Regions from separate parts of the Homo sapiens genome. Here region 2 is linked to region 1. The links come from fine-mapping of genetic effects on gene expression. Tissue or cell type: cerebellum. Region 1 holds a variant in brackets; the other region holds the start of a gene. All regions are shown on one strand. Distances are between the middles of the regions.

Evidence for each region. PIP is the estimated chance that this variant, and not a neighbour inherited with it, causes the effect.
Region 2: MOV10L1 starts here. The variant in region 1 is fine-mapped to the expression of MOV10L1 in cerebellum (GTEx, PIP 0.99).

What each region holds. Positions count from the first base shown.
Region 1 is chr22:50,142,612-50,150,692 of GRCh38, forward strand. MOV10L1 (Mov10 like RNA helicase 1) reads left to right here. Exons shown (of 27, transcript NM_018995.3): 17 at 432-610; 18 at 1,486-1,632; 19 at 3,078-3,199; 20 at 7,004-7,103. Among named protein-coding and RNA genes, the nearest start is that of PANX2, 24 kb to the right of the region's middle. The variant C/G (reference allele first, on the strand shown) is at 4,623.
Region 2 is chr22:50,086,866-50,094,930 of GRCh38, forward strand. It overlaps MOV10L1 (Mov10 like RNA helicase 1), which reads left to right and starts at 3,141. Exons shown (of 27, transcript NM_018995.3): 1 at 3,141-3,320; 2 at 5,136-5,320. The coding sequence starts at 3,224.

The DNA of each region.
Region 1 (8,081 bases):
TGAGCTCAGGAGTTCGAGACCAACCTGGACAACATGGCGAAACCTTGTCTCTATAAAAAAAAAAAAATACAAAAATTAGCCAGGTGTGGTGGTGGGCGCCTGTGGTCCCAGCTACCCGGGAGGCTGACGTGGGAGGATCGCTTGAGCTCAGGAGATGGAGGTTACAGTGAGCTGAGATTGTGCCACTGTACTCCAAGCTGGGTGACAGAGCGAGACCCTGTCTCAAAAAAGAAAAAAAAAATGCAAACAGATTATTAAGAGGAATGCCCTGTGCGCATCTTACCCCTGGTCACACTGAAGAGCTACTCCCTGTCTGTGACTCTGATTTAGCCTTTGCACAGACGTGCTGACGCCTGACCTAGGTGAGGACGTGTCCACAGCTGTTGAGAGCTGTTTGCATCTAACTGAAACTTTCTTCACTTTGAATACAGTAGATGAAATTCAGACCCCTAAAGCAAGAAAGATGGAGTTTTTCAACCCAGTGCTAAATGAAAATCAGAAGTTAGCAGTTAAAAGGATTCTGAGTGGTGACTGCCGTCCCCTCCCGTATATTCTCTTTGGACCTCCTGGTACTGGAAAGACAGTGACAATAATAGAGGCTGTTTTACAGGTAAGGACAGCGGCGCCGCGGGTGCTGTGGCTCTGTGCTGCTGTTCATGTGTCGTCTGTGTCTTCAGGAAGTGTGAGTTTAGATTGTAGAATCAGACAGTTGGAAAGAGCTTGAGAAATACCAGTTATTTCATAATGTTAAGTCTGTTTTTGTGGATATGTAGGGATTTAAAAGCTTATTTCATAGGTTTAGAAGGAAACTCATTTTTAGCCTGGTAAACTATTTTATCTGAATCATGACATTTTGCTGCAGAAAAGAAGTTACTCTTATAGTAGCTACAGCCACCATTCCACAGAAGTTTTAGATATCTTCATTTGTAATTGAAGTTAAGTTTATGAAACTATTGTCTACAGATGCTTCTTAACTTTTGATGGGGTTACAACCCAATAACCCATCGTAATGGGATTTGGGAAGCCTGTTTCAGGTTCATCAAGGCATGATCCCTTGTCAGGTGAGGAGCAGACTGACTGGGGATGGTCTTCACACCATCATAAAGTCAAAAAAGCGTTAAGTCAAACCATCATAAGCCGAAGACCATCTACATTTAGCGTCATTCAGGATTCAAATTAGCAAACAGGTATTGAGCGCACAATTGTACCACACGCCAGATGTGTGCAGATGAATCTGACTCTGTTTCTGCCCTGAAAGGTGGTTTAGAATCTTAGAGAGTGCGGAGAACCTTCCCACCTAACCCATGCTTTGGCAGCAGTGTGATGAGGCAGAGTCGTGGCCCAGGTCTCAGTGTGTTGGGGGCTGGCATCTGAGCCCATGCAGCTGAGTCCCTGCACCCGAATGTGTGTGTTGAGGTTAGACTCCTGGTTTCCACCTTGCGGTGTGGATGTTGAGCCTTGGTCTCTTGTGTGTCTTTGATGAAGGTACACTTTGCCTTGCCGGACAGTCGGATTTTAGTCTGTGCGCCCTCCAACAGTGCTGCTGACCTCGTGTGTCTGCGGCTGCACGAGAGCAAGGTGCTACAGCCGGCCACCATGGTCCGGGTGAACGCCACCTGCAGGTTCGAGGAGGTGAGCCCTTGGTGCAAGCAGTGGGGGGCACCAGAACCCCTCCCTGGAACATAGGAAATGCCAAGTGGACAGGGGAGGGCAGGGGTAGGAGGGTGGGCACAGAGGCGCCACAGAAAGCTGTGTTTGAGAAATGGCTCTGCCATGGGCCCTCCCTCACCGCTAAATGGTGGAGCTTGATTGCTGACTATTTCATCACATTCTCACTCTGTGTGAGTTATCACACCTATTGTGGGCATTCGTAGCATTGTAAAATTATCACATTCCTCTTTTATTTAATCCCCAAACGTCTTGTTACTTTTTAAGTAGTTTTGTTTTGTTGGTTTGGTGTTTTTTGTTTTGTTTTGTTTTTTTTTTTTGAGACGGAGTCTCGCTGTGTCGCCCAGGCTGAAGTGCAGTGGCATGATCTCGGCTCACTGCAAGCTCCGCCTCCCAGGTTCACACCATTCTCTGGCCTCAGCCTCCCAAGTAGCTGGGACTACAGGCACCCGCCACTGCGCCCGGCTAATTTTTTGTATTTTTAGTAGAGACGGAGTTTCACCGTGTTAGCCAGGATGGTCTCGATCTCCTGACCTCATGATCTGCCCGCCTCGGCCTCCCAAAGTGCTGGGATTACAGGCGTGAGCCACCGTGCCCGGCCTGGTTTGGTTTTAAGTATTCCTTTAAGTTGCTGGTTTGGTTATAGAGCGAAGTATTGCTTTTATTTTTTTGTTTGTTTGAGACAGAGTTTTTGCTCTTGTTGCCCAGGCTGGAGTGCAGTGGTGTGATCTTGGCTAACTGCAACCTCCGCCTCCCGGGTTCAAGCAATTCTCCTGCCTCAGCCTCCTAAGTACCTAGGATTACAGGTGTGTGCCACCACATCCAGCTAATTTTGTATTTTTAGTAGAGACAGGGTTTCACCATGTTGGTCAGGCTGGTCACGAACTCCTGATCTCAAGTGATCCACCCGCCTCTGCCTCCCAAAGTGTTGAGATTACAGGCTTTAGCCACTGTGCCCAGCCTGAAATATTGCGTTTAAAAAAGACATTGAAAATAGCTGGGCGTGGTGGCATGCGCCTGTAATCCCAGCTACTCCGGAGGCCGAAGCAGGAGAATCACTTGAACCTGGGAGGCAGAGGTTGCAGTGAGCCGAGATTGCACCATTGCACTCCAGCCTGGGCGACAGAGCAAGAGCAAGACTCCCTCTCTAAATAAACAAACAAACAAACTGAATAGAAAATGTACAAAGTTGTTTTGGGGAAGGGTCTGCAGGATTATGTGTTATATTTGTGGCTCTAGAGTTGATAAAACATGGACTGAATTGATAAGGAAGTATGAGATATTTTGAGAAAAAAACCTTAAATCATGACTTAGACGTAACTAAGAAGTGGTACCAGGGCAAGGTTCCCTTTTGGAATTCTGCTTAATAATTGGAGGAGTAAACTAACTCTACGCCTCCTTGCCCCCAGATAGTTATTGACGCCGTCAAACCGTATTGCAGAGACGGAGAAGACATCTGGAAAGCCTCACGCTTCCGGATAATCATCACCACATGCAGCAGCTCAGGGCTGTTTTACCAAATAGGAGTGAGGTGAGCCCCGGGCATGGAGCGCGGCATGGGGCCTCCCAGGGCAGAGGTCGGAGTCCTCTCCTAGCTTCTGTCTGAGGGGCGGATGACCCAGAGACTCAGTGCTCAGGGAGGGAGGCAGGGCTGTGGGCGAGAAAGGCTGGTTGGGGAGGGCCGTGCCTGAATGGAGCTGGGGAAGCCGAGACCCCAAGGACTCGAAGGAGCCAGCAGTGGGATGGGCAGGCAGATGGACTGGCCCATGCAGAGGCCCCGCGGTGGGGGAGCACTGAGGTCTCCCCAAAGGAGACTGTAGAGCCAGAGCCTCGTGAGCAGGAACGGCCTGAAAGGGGTGGTGAGGGGGAGGCCTGGCGGGCTGTGGAGGGGCCTTTGGACGACCTCTGGTGAGCCGGGAAGCCAGTGAAGGGCTTCTGAGCAGGAGAGTGAGTCTCTTGGAGTGGGCGTGGGGAGGCAGGCTGCCTAGGAAACGGCTGGGCTCTGTAAGGTCAGACCCTGGGGGCCATTTGTGTCCCTGGCGCTGGGGGCTCTTCAGGGGAGACAGGCGGAGGAGATGGATTGTGGGGTGCCGGCTGTCATAGGAGGACCTCCCCTGGGGGCTGGGAGGAAGAGCTTCGAGCCCAGGGAGGCTGAGTGAGGACCAAGGCACTCTCAGACCCCAGTGCAGGGGGGTGGGGTCGGGGAGGCAGCAGGCAGCTCCCTCTCAGTGCATAGAGCCAGACAGTGTCGGGGGCACAGGCTGAGGGTGAGAGAGGGAGAAGCCAGGGCCTCTGAGGGAAGCCCCACCCTCCCTGACGGCCTGGAGACAGGTCGCTCTGAACAGTGTCCAGCGTCACAGTGGTCGTGACCCTCCCTGACAGCCTGGAGACAGGTCACCCTGGACAGTGTCCAGCGTCACGGTGGTCGTGAGGGTGACCACAGGAGGTGGTCCGTCAGCTCCACATGGAGCAAAGGCACAGCCAGCCACGCCTATCACAGCGTGTCACGGATGGTTTCATCGGCGCGTTTAACTCTCTCACATACATGATGTCCTTTCATCATGAGATTAGTAGAACGTGATTGATGAGACACTTTACATTTTTTTTGGTTCAAGTCTTCAAAATCCACCATGTATTTTACACTTAGAGCATGTCAGGTTTCAGACTAGCCACTGTGCGGTGCCCGAGAGCCGTGTGTGGCTACCGGATTGGACAGCACGGATCTGAACAAGACAGGGATTTTTTTTGTTAATGTGTGTTGATGAGTCAAAGGTCAAGAGCCGAAGAGCCAGTCCTCACTGGGGTGCAGAGGGCTCTTTGGGGGCAGAGCGGGCACTGCATGGACCCTGCACCCTGGAGCTGATGTTCAGGTAGTGGGAGGAGGTGGCCGGCCAGGGCAGGCCGCTCTCTCAGAGGCACTCTGTGCAGAAGCAGGGAGGGTGCTGCAGGCCGCT[C/G]TCTCAGAGGCGCTCTGTGCAGAAGCAGGGAGGGTGCTGCAGGCCGCTCTCTCAGAGGCGCTCTGTGCAGAAGCAGGGAGGGTGCTGCAGGCCGCTCTCTCAGAGGCGCTCTGTGCAGAAGCAGGGAGGGTGCTGCAGGCCGCTCTCTCAGAGGCGCTCTGTGCAGAAGCAGGGAGGGTGCTGCAGGCCGCTCTCTCAGAGGCGCTCTGTGCAGAAGCAGGGAGGGTGCTGCAGGCCGCTCTCTCAGAGGCGCTCTGTGCAGAAGCAGGGAGGGTGCTGCAGGCCGCTCTCTCAGAGGCGCTCTGTGCAGAAGCAGGGAGGGTGCTGCAGGCCGCTCTCTCAGAGGCGCTCTGTGCAGAAGCAGGGAGGGTGCTGCAGCCCAGCTGCAGAGGCCCCACAGCGTTAGTTGGCCACTGGGGGCGGCTGGAGTGGGGAGGGGCACTTCAAAGGGCAAAGAAGTAGCAATGTCATCTGGCAAAAGTGACATTAAATAACTGCAATTAATACAGAATTGAAACCTAAATACTTACATTCTAGGAAAGATACATAATGTTAATTTTTTTCAACAGAAATAGGGACATGAGATGGGGAAATGGCAGTTTGCTGATTTCCACATCTTTCACTGGGAGGGGTTCACGGTGTCACTTGTGAAATCCGTGTCTTGAGAGTTACACATTGATACCTGAAGTGAAAGGTGTCAGCTGACCGTGAGTGGATGCAGGACATGTTGGGCCCAGCACTGCTGTAAGCAGGAGCCCGCCCCCGCACAGGTCTGACCACAGGGTCTCACCCCACAGTGGGACACCTGAGGCTCAGAGGTGATGGATTTGCCCAGCATCTAGGGTTGGAGAGGGGAGATCCTGGAATCAGCAGTGAGAAGGGTAAACGTGGGCTCGGCAGTGAGGACGGTGCGGGCCCAAGGTGCGTCCTGTTGAGTGTTGGCGTGGCTCCGGACACTCTCTCTGCCCCATACCTGCTTCCTCAGGCATCAGGACATGTTTCTGCCCCAAGAGCATTTCCCCACTGAGGCCTCCTGACCACAGAGCAGAAGCTGCTGGGGTGGGCGAGCCAGGGAAGCCGGGGCACCTGTTCCTCAGCTCATGGCCCCAGGTGGGGTGGCCCCTCTGCACTCTAGAAACAGATCATGTGCCGAGCGAGCTCCTGCTCTCCGCTCAGTCCCACAGCCTTCCCATGCAAGAGTTCCGCAGCTTCTCCTGACGACTCCTTCCCGCAAAATCCCCACCCCGTCCATCAGCAACGCTGTGGACTCTCTGCTCCTGCACCTCCCTTACCTCCCTTGTCACACGGAGAAGGAAGAGCCGGACAGGTACCCGCCAGGAGGGCTGCTCTGTAGCTGGGAACCTCACTGAGTTTGCAGCAGGGGCCAGAATTGTGGGGAGCCATTCTAGAGACCGCATTTTCTTTTTTTCTTTTTTTTTTTTTTTTATGAGATGGAGTCTTGCTCTGTCACCCAAGCTGGAGTGCAGTGGCGCGATCTCAGCTCACTGCAAGCTCCGCCTCCCAGGTTCACGCCATTCTCCTGCCTCAGCTTCCCGAGTAGCTGGGACTACAGGCGCCCGCCACCACACCCGGCTAATTTTTTTGTATTTTGAGTAGAGACGGGGTTTCACCGTGTTAGCCAGGATGGTCTTGATCTCCTGACCTCGTGATCCACCCATCTCGGCCTCCCAAAGTGCTGGCATTACAGGCGTGAGCCACTGCGCCCGACCAACCCCATTTTCTTAATGGTGCCGCAGATTGGGAAGTGGCTCCCAGGGCCTCAGCCTATTGGCATGCAGGCCAGGCAGTGCCCAGCTGAGAGTGGCTCACAAGGATGAGTCAGGAGGAAATGAGCGGATGGCAGGAGAGGCTGCCATCTGTGGCCGCCTGCATGGCCAGGCCTGTTCTCAGCGCTTTACAGCGGCCAGTTCAGCTGCTCTCACCTCAGCCACCTCCCGAGAGACACGTGGGAGGTGGAGGCTCAGAGAGGGGAAGTCAGGACTAGAGCCTGGGCATTTTGATAATGACAGGAGTGAGACGCAGGTGGAGAGCAGGCCAGGAGCCTGCGGCGCTTCTCCTGTGAGCTGCCCCCAGGAGGCGCTCGTGTGTTGCCCATCGCTCCCACCCCTTCTTCCCTCCACATCTCTAGAAATACAGACGCTGCGTGCAAAGCACTGGGTGCTGATGTGGCTTAGCATCTCCTGACACCTGTGGCCTGTCCTCCCTCCAGCCGGGTGACACCCAGACCCCCAGCTCCTGCACACCCCTGGGCAACCCTGCTGTGCCCCCGGGGTGCTGAGCGTGGCTTTGCCAGTGTGTCAGAGGCATCAATTGCTAAAACAATTCGGCAGAAATTACCATTTAGAACATCTTTGCTCTAGAGTTGGGCACTTCACTCACGTGTTTGTGGACGAGGCTGGGCAGGCAAGTGAGCCGGAATGCCTCATTCCTCTGGGGCTGATGTCGGACATCAGTGGCCAGGTAAGTCCCGACTACTGTGTGTGCTGCTTCCTCCTCACCCCGTTCTCCTGAGGGGATGCAGGCTGCGATCCTGCCGGGAACAGTCACAGCTGTACAGGGGTCAGGTGGAAGTGCCAAGGACCCCGAGGTGTTGGGGGCCATGGGTCTCTATTGTACTTTATTCCTTTTGGACTAGAAGTGAATGTCTTGACTCATTTACTTGTAAAACGGAGGTAAGAGCCATTCTAGGTGTTGGGGATACAGCGGTAAAGTCAGGAATGTGGTCCCTGCTCTGGGTGAGCCGGCCGTTCAGTGCCTGGAGGGGCGGACAGGGCCAGTGCTCCTGCATCTGACCCACTTGCCCCTCAGGCTGCCCTGGCCTCCAGCTCTGTGCATCCTCTGTTCTCTGCTCCCACCTGCTTCCTCCCCGAGTGCTTCTGATGGTGGCGTGGGCATCACCTTGAACTTCCCTGGTTCTCTCACTGTGGCTCATCCAGGCGAGCTCATCCAGTGTCCAGCACTGGACATTTCAGGGTCCTCCTTGGCACCCATCCTAGATGTCTGTCCCAGTCACCAGGCACTGTGGGGCGGAGCATGAAGGTGACGCCTAGGGAGGGAGCAGGGACTGGTCCAGGCAGAGCAGCGGCATAGGGCGGCCTGACCAGGTCAAGGCAACCATGGGCAAGAGGCAAGGGGCAGGTGGGATGGCGGCCAGGGCCAGCCATGCAGAAGCTTCCAGAAGATAGACGGCATCCTTGGGGCTCTTACCACTTTGAGAGATTCGCAGGAGAGAAAACCAGGCTGCAGAAGCCGGGCAGATGGCAGGACTTCGGGGAGGCAGATGGCAGGACTTCAGGGGGAAGCGGGGAGAGACGGCTCCAAGCCCTGTCGGCATTCCCTGGTCTCCCAGTCCCTCCCGTCGTCCCCTGCAGCAAGAGTGAGCATGGGGCCATCCTGCGCACAGCCCCATTCCCACCTGAGCCCGTAGGAGTGGCAGCG
Region 2 (8,065 bases), 56 kb before region 1:
AACAAACATTTATGGGGTGGACAAAGAAGTGACGTCCTTCCTATAGGCTGTTTACATTCATTGGGGGCACAGGAGTGCACAGGATAAACAAATTAGTGTGTTATACAGTGATATGGTTTGGCTGTGTCCCCACTCAAATCTCATCTTGAATTGTAATTCCCATAATTCCTACATGTCGTGGAAGGGGCCCGGTGGGAGGTAATTGAATCATGGGGGTGGTTACCCCCATGCTGCTGTTCTCCTGACAATGAGTGAGGTCTTATGAGATCTGATGGTCTTTTATAAGGGGCTTTCCCCGCTTTTGCTCAAGACTTCTCCTTCCTGCCACCTTGTGAAGAAGGACATGTTTGCTTCCCCTTCCACCATGATTGTAAGTTTCCTGAGGCCTCCTCAGCCCTGTGGAACTGTGAGTCAATTAAAGCTCTTTCCTTTATAAGGACTTGACTCTAAAATTACCCAGTCTTGGGTATGTCCTTATAGCAGCGTGAGAACAGACTAATGCATCCAGTGACACACATGATTTCCTCTATGAGGGAAAAGAAGTCAGGGGAGAGAAATGAGGGGCTGCTGTTTGCAGGGGCCAGGGCAGGCCTCAGTGAGAAGGAGGCAGGGAGGGGAGGCTGGCAGAGTTGAAGCAAAGGCCACAGGTTGGGGAAGGCAGGCGAGGACCATGCAAGGGGGATACAGGTAGGACAGCCAGGTGCCAGCACCTGTGGGTATGGAGACGACTCTGCTTCAACTCTGAGACAGACCTGCTGGAGGGGTCTGGGCAGAGCAGCATCCGGTCACTCACTGGGTGGAGAGCAGGCTGGGGGGTGGGAGGAGCAGGTGCTGCCTGGCATTGAGGTGGCAGTGGGCAAGTGGTGAGGAGGGACTGGGCTCTGAACAGGGTTTGAAGAGCGGACGCAATCTGCTGTCAGGGCGACGTTGCTGAGTTCTGTCTGAGCAGTGAGGACAGAGATGAGAAGACCAGGGTGGAGCAGGTGTGGAGCGAGGATCTGGAGTTCCATTCTGGACATGATGAGGCCGAGATGTCTGTGGGCATCTGCCGGGTCTACTGAGTCCAGAATCCCAGGGAGTGGCCCGAGCTGGGGAGCTGAGGGGCAGCCCTGCAGGCACAGCACCCGCTGCGAGCTGCCCTGGCAGGGAGCCCATGAGCCACCAGCCCTCATGCAGCTCGCTCTTGTTTCCAAGCTAATCTCCCACCAACCAGTAGGTCCCTGGGACCCTGCTGGCTCCTGTATGTGTTCCAGCACCCAGCCCAAGACACAGGCTTAGCGGGGATTTGAAATGCTAGGGAGTGCGCCACTCTCTCCCTTCCCACAGCAAGAACTATCAGTACACTCTGCATCCATGGACAGGCAAGGTCCAGGCTGTCATCAGACTGACAGATCTGACCTAGGAAAATAAAGCTATGTCAATCAAAAATAAGTCGGGGCTGGGCGCAGTGGCTCACACCTGTAATCCCAGCACTCGGGAGGCCAAGGCGGGTGGATCACCTGCGGGTCAGAAGTTCGAGACCAGCCTGACCAACATGGTAAAACCTTGTCGCTACTAAAAATACAAAAAAAAAAAAAAAAAAAAAAAAAAAAAAAAGCCAGCGTGGTGGCGCACGCCTGTAATCCCAGCTGCTCTGGAGGCTGAGGCAGGAGAATCACTTGAACCCGGGAGGTGGAGGCTACAGTGAGCTAAGATCATGCCACTGCATTCCAGCCTGGGCGACGGAGCAGGACTCCATCTCAAAAAAAAAAAAAAAGAAATAATAAAAAACAGAAACCACTGGAATAGTAAAGATATATATACGTATTTTGTTTTTGTTTTTGTTTTGAGGCAGAGTCTTGCTCTGTCTCCCAGGCTGGAGTGTAGTGGTGTGATCTCAGCTCACTGCAACCTCCACCTCCTGGGTTCAAGTGATTCTTCTGCTTCAGCCTCCCAAGTAGTTGGGATTACAGGCATGCGCCACCATGCCTGGCTAATTTTTTTTGTATTTTTTTGTAGAGACAGGATTTTGGCAGGTTGACCAGGCTGGTCTCGAACTCCTGACCTCAAGTGATCTGCTCACCTTGGCCTCGCAAAGTGTAAAGATATTTTTAAAATAGAGAAAAATCAATGAAATCAAGGGATGATTTTTTTTAAAAACTCAATAAAATTGATAAATATAGACTGATCAAGGAAAATGAGAGGGATGAGATAAATTACCTATGTCAAGAATGAAAGATGGCTCATCATTATGGACCATACAGACGTTAAAAGGATAATAAGGAAATATGCTGAACAACTTTATGCCAATAATCTGACATCTAATAATTGGATGAAATGGACAAATTCCTTAAAAGAATTACCAAAGTTTATTCAATATTACCTTGATAACTTGAATAGCCCTCTAGCTGATGCAGAAGTGAATTTCTCATTAAAAACCTTCCCACAAAGAAATCTCGAAGCCCAAATGGGTTCCCCAGCGAATACTACCACAATTTTTAGGGAATAAGTTACCCCATCCTACTCCCAGGTCACTGCAGGCCCGGCTTAAACCGACCCCAAACCAGACAGACACAGAAAACGGGAGGTCGGCCACAGAGCAATCTGCTTCACCAGCACCGTCCCCAACCTTGGACAAAGCGTTACCAAGCTGAGTCAGGCAATACACCAAAAGGATAACGAATCGTGACCAAGTGAGTTTTCCAAGGAGAGCCAAACAATGTAATTCCCTATGGGCTGAAATAAAAAGCTACAGGATCATTTGAATACATGCAGAAAAGCGTTGCAGAAAATTTCACACCCACTCATAAGAACTCTTGGAAAAACAGGAATAGAGGGAACTTCCTCAACTTGATAAAAAACACCAACAAAAAACGACTCCTAACATCACTCTGGGTGGTGAAAGCGCACTTTTCCCTAATGTGTGGGCGGCAAGAAGGCGGACCCGCTCGAAGCTCCGCCCACCCACGCGAGGCCCCGCCCGCCCGCTCGAAGCCCCGCCCACCCGGCGGTCACACCGCCTTGCGCGCTCGGCATGACGTCACTCCCACCAGGCACCTCGCCTTGTCAGGAGCTGCCAGGCGCCAACCGCCGACCTCTGACCGCTACGGGTCCCGGCTCGCGCAACGACCCCAAGGCGCATGCCCAGGCGCGGCGACCCCATTGGTGGCGGGCGGCGGGAGCGGCGCGGGCGCGTGCGGGCGGCGGCAGCGGCGGTGACGGCAGCCTAGGCCGGGCGAGGGCCATGCTGAGCCTCGCAGCCAAGCTGGTGGCCTTCTTCTGGAGGACGGCGGACACCCCTAGGGAGGAAGCCGGGCAGCTGGAGCCCGAGCTCGCGGAAGGTGGCTCGCGGGAGGCGGCTGGGAGGCGGGTCCCGGGCCCTCGCGTGTCGGCCACGAGGGAGCCGCGCCCATAGGTCTTTGAGTGCAGTGCGGGCCGGCAGGCAACGCTGGGCCCGGCCTTTCCTCATCTCCGCTGGCGGGGATCCCCGTTCGCCTCAGGAGGCTTCCGACCCCACAGCATCCCGCCGCTCTGGGCGCCCGTCCTCTGTGAGGTCTCTCCGGTGACACCAGCCCCTCTTCCCGCCCTCACTTTGTGTGTTTACGCCGAGCAGCTGCCAAGTCGTCTCTCCATGTCGTTCCTCCCTGTCCGCAGCGTCATTGGCGGTGGTGTGTCTAGAAAGCCCCGAAAAACGCGGCCCCGCAGACTTGGCCTGTCCTTTCAGAACGCGCTGCGCCAAGGCGTGCCATTTCCTTGTCTGGTTTTCAAGCCCATCTTTCTAAAGCCCGGGATGCGCCCGGATGCCCTCACCGTTCCTTTCTCCTGAGGTGTTTGTGTGTGTGTGTGTGTGAGACGGAGTTTCGCTCTTGTTGCCCAGGCTGGAGTGCAGTGGCGCAATCTCGGCTCACCGCAACCTCCGCCTTCTGGGTTCAAGTGATTCTCCTGCCTCAGCCTCCCGAGCAGCGGGGATTATAGGCACCCGCCACCACGCCCGGCTAATTTTTGTATTTTTAGTCGAGGGGGGGTTCGCCATGTTGGTCAGGCTGGTCTCGAACTCCTGATCTCAGGTGACCCACCCACCTTGGCCTCCCAAAGTGCTGGGATTACAGGCTTGAGCCACCACGCCCGACCTCTCCCGAGGTTCTGATGGCTTCTCCCGATGTTTCCTTATGTGGGAATGGAATCCACAGTAGTGGGTCCCTAATTGCCTTCTGTGAGAAAAGACAGGAACAGGCTTCAGGAGGGGAGCTTCCTGCTGCAGGCAGCGTGTTCAGGGCCTCTGGATCCACGAGGGCCGATGCCCGGGGGGCCGGCTGTGTTACCTGGAGCACTTGCTCCGTGGATCTCTTCGGTAGAACACGCGCTCAGCGGTAGCTGGAGCTCCAGCTCTTGGCAGCGCTCAGATCCTATGCCTGTACTGTAACCGTCGCCCCAGGTTCCTCCCGTGGCTGGGAAGCTGCAGTAAAGGCACGTTCAGGACTCAGGACCGTGGCTGCAGCAGTGGCCAGACGGCTGAGGGCGTGCGCTGCTCCTGGGCCAGACTTGTCTGCCCAGCCCCGAACCTTTTCCAGCACCGTGTTTGTTGAGATTCTCCAGTCTTCCGAGGCTGCTGCTGATGGTAATAAAAAGATAATCGATAGTACTAATAAAACCGTGCATGCTAATGACTCCCAGATGCTGATATAAGTGGCCATTTACATAGCACTTAACGCGTGTCAGCCACGCAGAGGTCCATACATGCACGTGTGTTCTGCCACTTAACCCTTCAGCAGCTCTCTTGGGTAGTGACGATTAGTCTCCATCTTACAGATGGCAACAGGCCCAGAGTAGTTAAGGACCTAGTCCAGGGTTACACCAATGGCAGTAGAAGAGCTAGGAGTCAACCCCATGCAGTCTGTTGTGGAGTCAGGGCTGTCACCTCCACAACCACTACCTGTGCCCTTCTGAGGAAACTGGGCTGTCTGCCTCCAAACCCCACGTTCCAGACACAGCACTCTCTGATGGGATTCTCTCTGTCTCAAGTCAGCCCGTTCGGAGTCAGTGCCTCCGAACTGCAAAAAAAGGAGGCTTTTGCACTCTGCCTTTCTCTGGTGGGGTTCACTGTAGCGTACGCTTGCTTTTATGGCCAAGATAACTTCTTTGTTTACCTACCTCAGGTGACACTAAGCTGAAAACTGTACGGGGTGTCGTGACAAGGTACTGCAGCGATTATGGCATGATTGATGATATGATCTACTTCTCCAGTGATGCTGTGACTAGCAGAGTGCTTCTGAATGTTGGACAGGAAGTGATTGCAGTTGTGGAAGAAAATAAAGTGTCCAATGGACTGAAAGCAATCAGGGTAAGGTTTGAGTTCATTTGGGAACAGTTTTTCTTCGCCACGGGACTTTGTGTTGTTTTTCCTTGTGTTTAATCTATCAGACATGACCCGGCCAAGGGAGAAAGAGTGGAATGTACCTTCAAGGGGATGCTTTTGCTCTTTATGATTTATGTTTTAAAAAATAGACTGGGTACAGTGGCTCACGCCTGTAATCCCAGCACTTTGGAAGGCTGAGACAGGCAGATCACTTGAGCTCAGGTGTTAAGAGACCAGCCTGGGCAGCATGGTGAAACCTCGTGTCTACAAAAAAAAAACCCACAAAAGTTAGCCTGGTGTCGTGGCACATACCTGTAGTCCCAGCTACATGGGAGGCTGAGGCGGGAGGATCGCTTGAGCCCAGAGGGTCAAGGCTGCAATGAGTTATGATTGCACTACCACACTCCAGCCTGGATGACAGAGCAAGACCCTGTCTCAATAAATAAACAAACAGCAGTCTTTGTAAATCATTCAAACAACATAGACATGTATACTTTAGAAAGTAAAGTTTGCCTATGAATTTATGCTGTGGAGAACATAGCAATTATATATCCATTATTTTCTTGCTTTTTCAACAATTTAATGGTTATCACCAAAGTAACATCAATAATATACAAATTTATACTCTTAGGAGCAGAATGAGAGACTGCACTTAATTTGCACTTAAGCCTTAAGTATGGTAACTTTTCTTTTTCTTTTTGTTTTTGTTTTTGTTTTTTTCTGAGACGGAGTCTCTGTCGCCCAGGCTGGAGTGCAGTGACGCAATCTCAGCTCACTGCAAGCTCCGCCTCCTGGGTTCACGCCATTCTCCTGCCTCAGCCTCCTGAGTAGCTGGGACTACAGGCACCCACCACCACACCCAGTTAATTTTTTTGTATTTTTAGTAGAGACGGGGTTTCACCGTGTTAGCCAGGATGGTCTGGAGCTCCTGACCTCGTGATCTGCCCACCTCAGCCTCCCAAAGTGCTAGGATTACAGGTGTGAGCCACCGCGCCCGGCCTCATGTTTTTTCTATGAATTATTTTTGGGTCCTTTGTCCACATTTTTGTTGAGTTCAGCTTTTTCTTTTGTTAAAGCTTATATATTAGGGAAATCAGAGCTTTTTAAGGAAAATTATTATATGAAAGTGTTAGGAATATTTTCCCCAGGATCATCTTTGACTGTGTTTTATAGTTTCATTTTTTGTAGTTAAGTGTGCCTCTTTTCCATGTAGCTTTTGGATGCTGTAAGAAGCCTTAGGGAGGCTTATTCCACTTCTTATTCCTAATATTCAAATTTTACTCTGAAAATTGTTTATTGACAATTAGAATTTTTTTTTCAATTTTTGAGACAGAGCTTTGCGCTGTCGCCCAGGCTGGAGTATAGTAGTGCGATTATAGTTCACTGCAGCCTGGAACTCCTGAGCTCAAGCGATTCTTCCACCTCAGCCTCCTGAGTAACTGGGACCACAGGTGTACACCATCATACCTGACTAATTTTTAAAATTTTTTTGTAGAAATGGCGTCTCACTGTGTTGCGTAGGCTGATCTGAAACTCCTGGCCTCGAGTGGTCCTTCCACCTCGGCCTCCCAAAGTGTTGGGATTACAGGCATGAGCCACCATGCCTGGCCTGTTTGTTGATATTTAAATATTTGACCTGCCTGGAATTTATTTGGGTGCACAGACTGAGAGAAGGAACCAGACATTGCTTTCCTAATGGCTAGCCAGTCATCTGAGTAGCTCACTTTTTCCCTGCTGATTTGGAAAATTCCTTAATCATGTATCAGAATCCCACCTGCATGTGATGTGGTCCTGATGCTTGTAAGGGGGCCCCATGGCATGGTTGCTGTGATAGGTGGTGAGCAGGTTTCCCTTCTTTGCTCTTATTAGCATATGGTATTTTTCTGGCTCTTCACATGTTCTGGATGAGTTTGGAATCTTGTTTCTCCCCCTCTGCCCAGATTTGCTTTGGATGGCACTGAGTTTATGCATTTCATTTAGAATAATTGATATTTGGGTCATATGGAGTCTTTTCCATATGTCTGTCCATTTATTTAAGCCTTCCTTTGTATTCTTTTTATAGTTCAATAGTTTTCTTCTTTTAGGTCCTGTAAATTTCTTACTAAATTTATTTTCAGGAGTTTTTATGTGTTCTATTAACATCATTTTCCATCGTATTTTCAAATTAATCTTTTTCTTCCTGTATGGGAAAGCTTTCAATTTTTTTTTTTTTTTTTTGAGACGGAGTCTCGCTCTGTCACCCAGGCTGGAGTGCAGTGGCATGATCTTGGCTCACTGCAAGCTCCATCTTCTGGGTTCACACCATTCTCCTGCCTCAGCCTCCAGAGTAGCTGGGACTACAGGCGCCTGCCACCACGCCCAGCTAATTTTTTGTATTTTTAGTAGAGATGGGGTTTCACTGTGTTAGCCAGGATGGTCTCGATCTCCTGACCTCGTGATCCGCCACCTCGGCCTCCCAAAGTGCCGGGATTACAGGCATGAGCCACCATGCCCAGCGATTTTTAAATGTAATTTGGAATCTGGCAAACGTATTGAGCTATTAACTACTTTTTAAAAATACTTGAGATGTACTTTATTATACTATTATAGTTAGTACCATCTAATGCTTAGTATCATCTTTCTCAAATTAAAAAAAAAGCATACCCAATAAAATAATTCAAAGTCTAGAATTCCATCATTCAATATGGTAGCCACCACTCATGTGCAGCAGTTTCGATTTATTAAAACTAA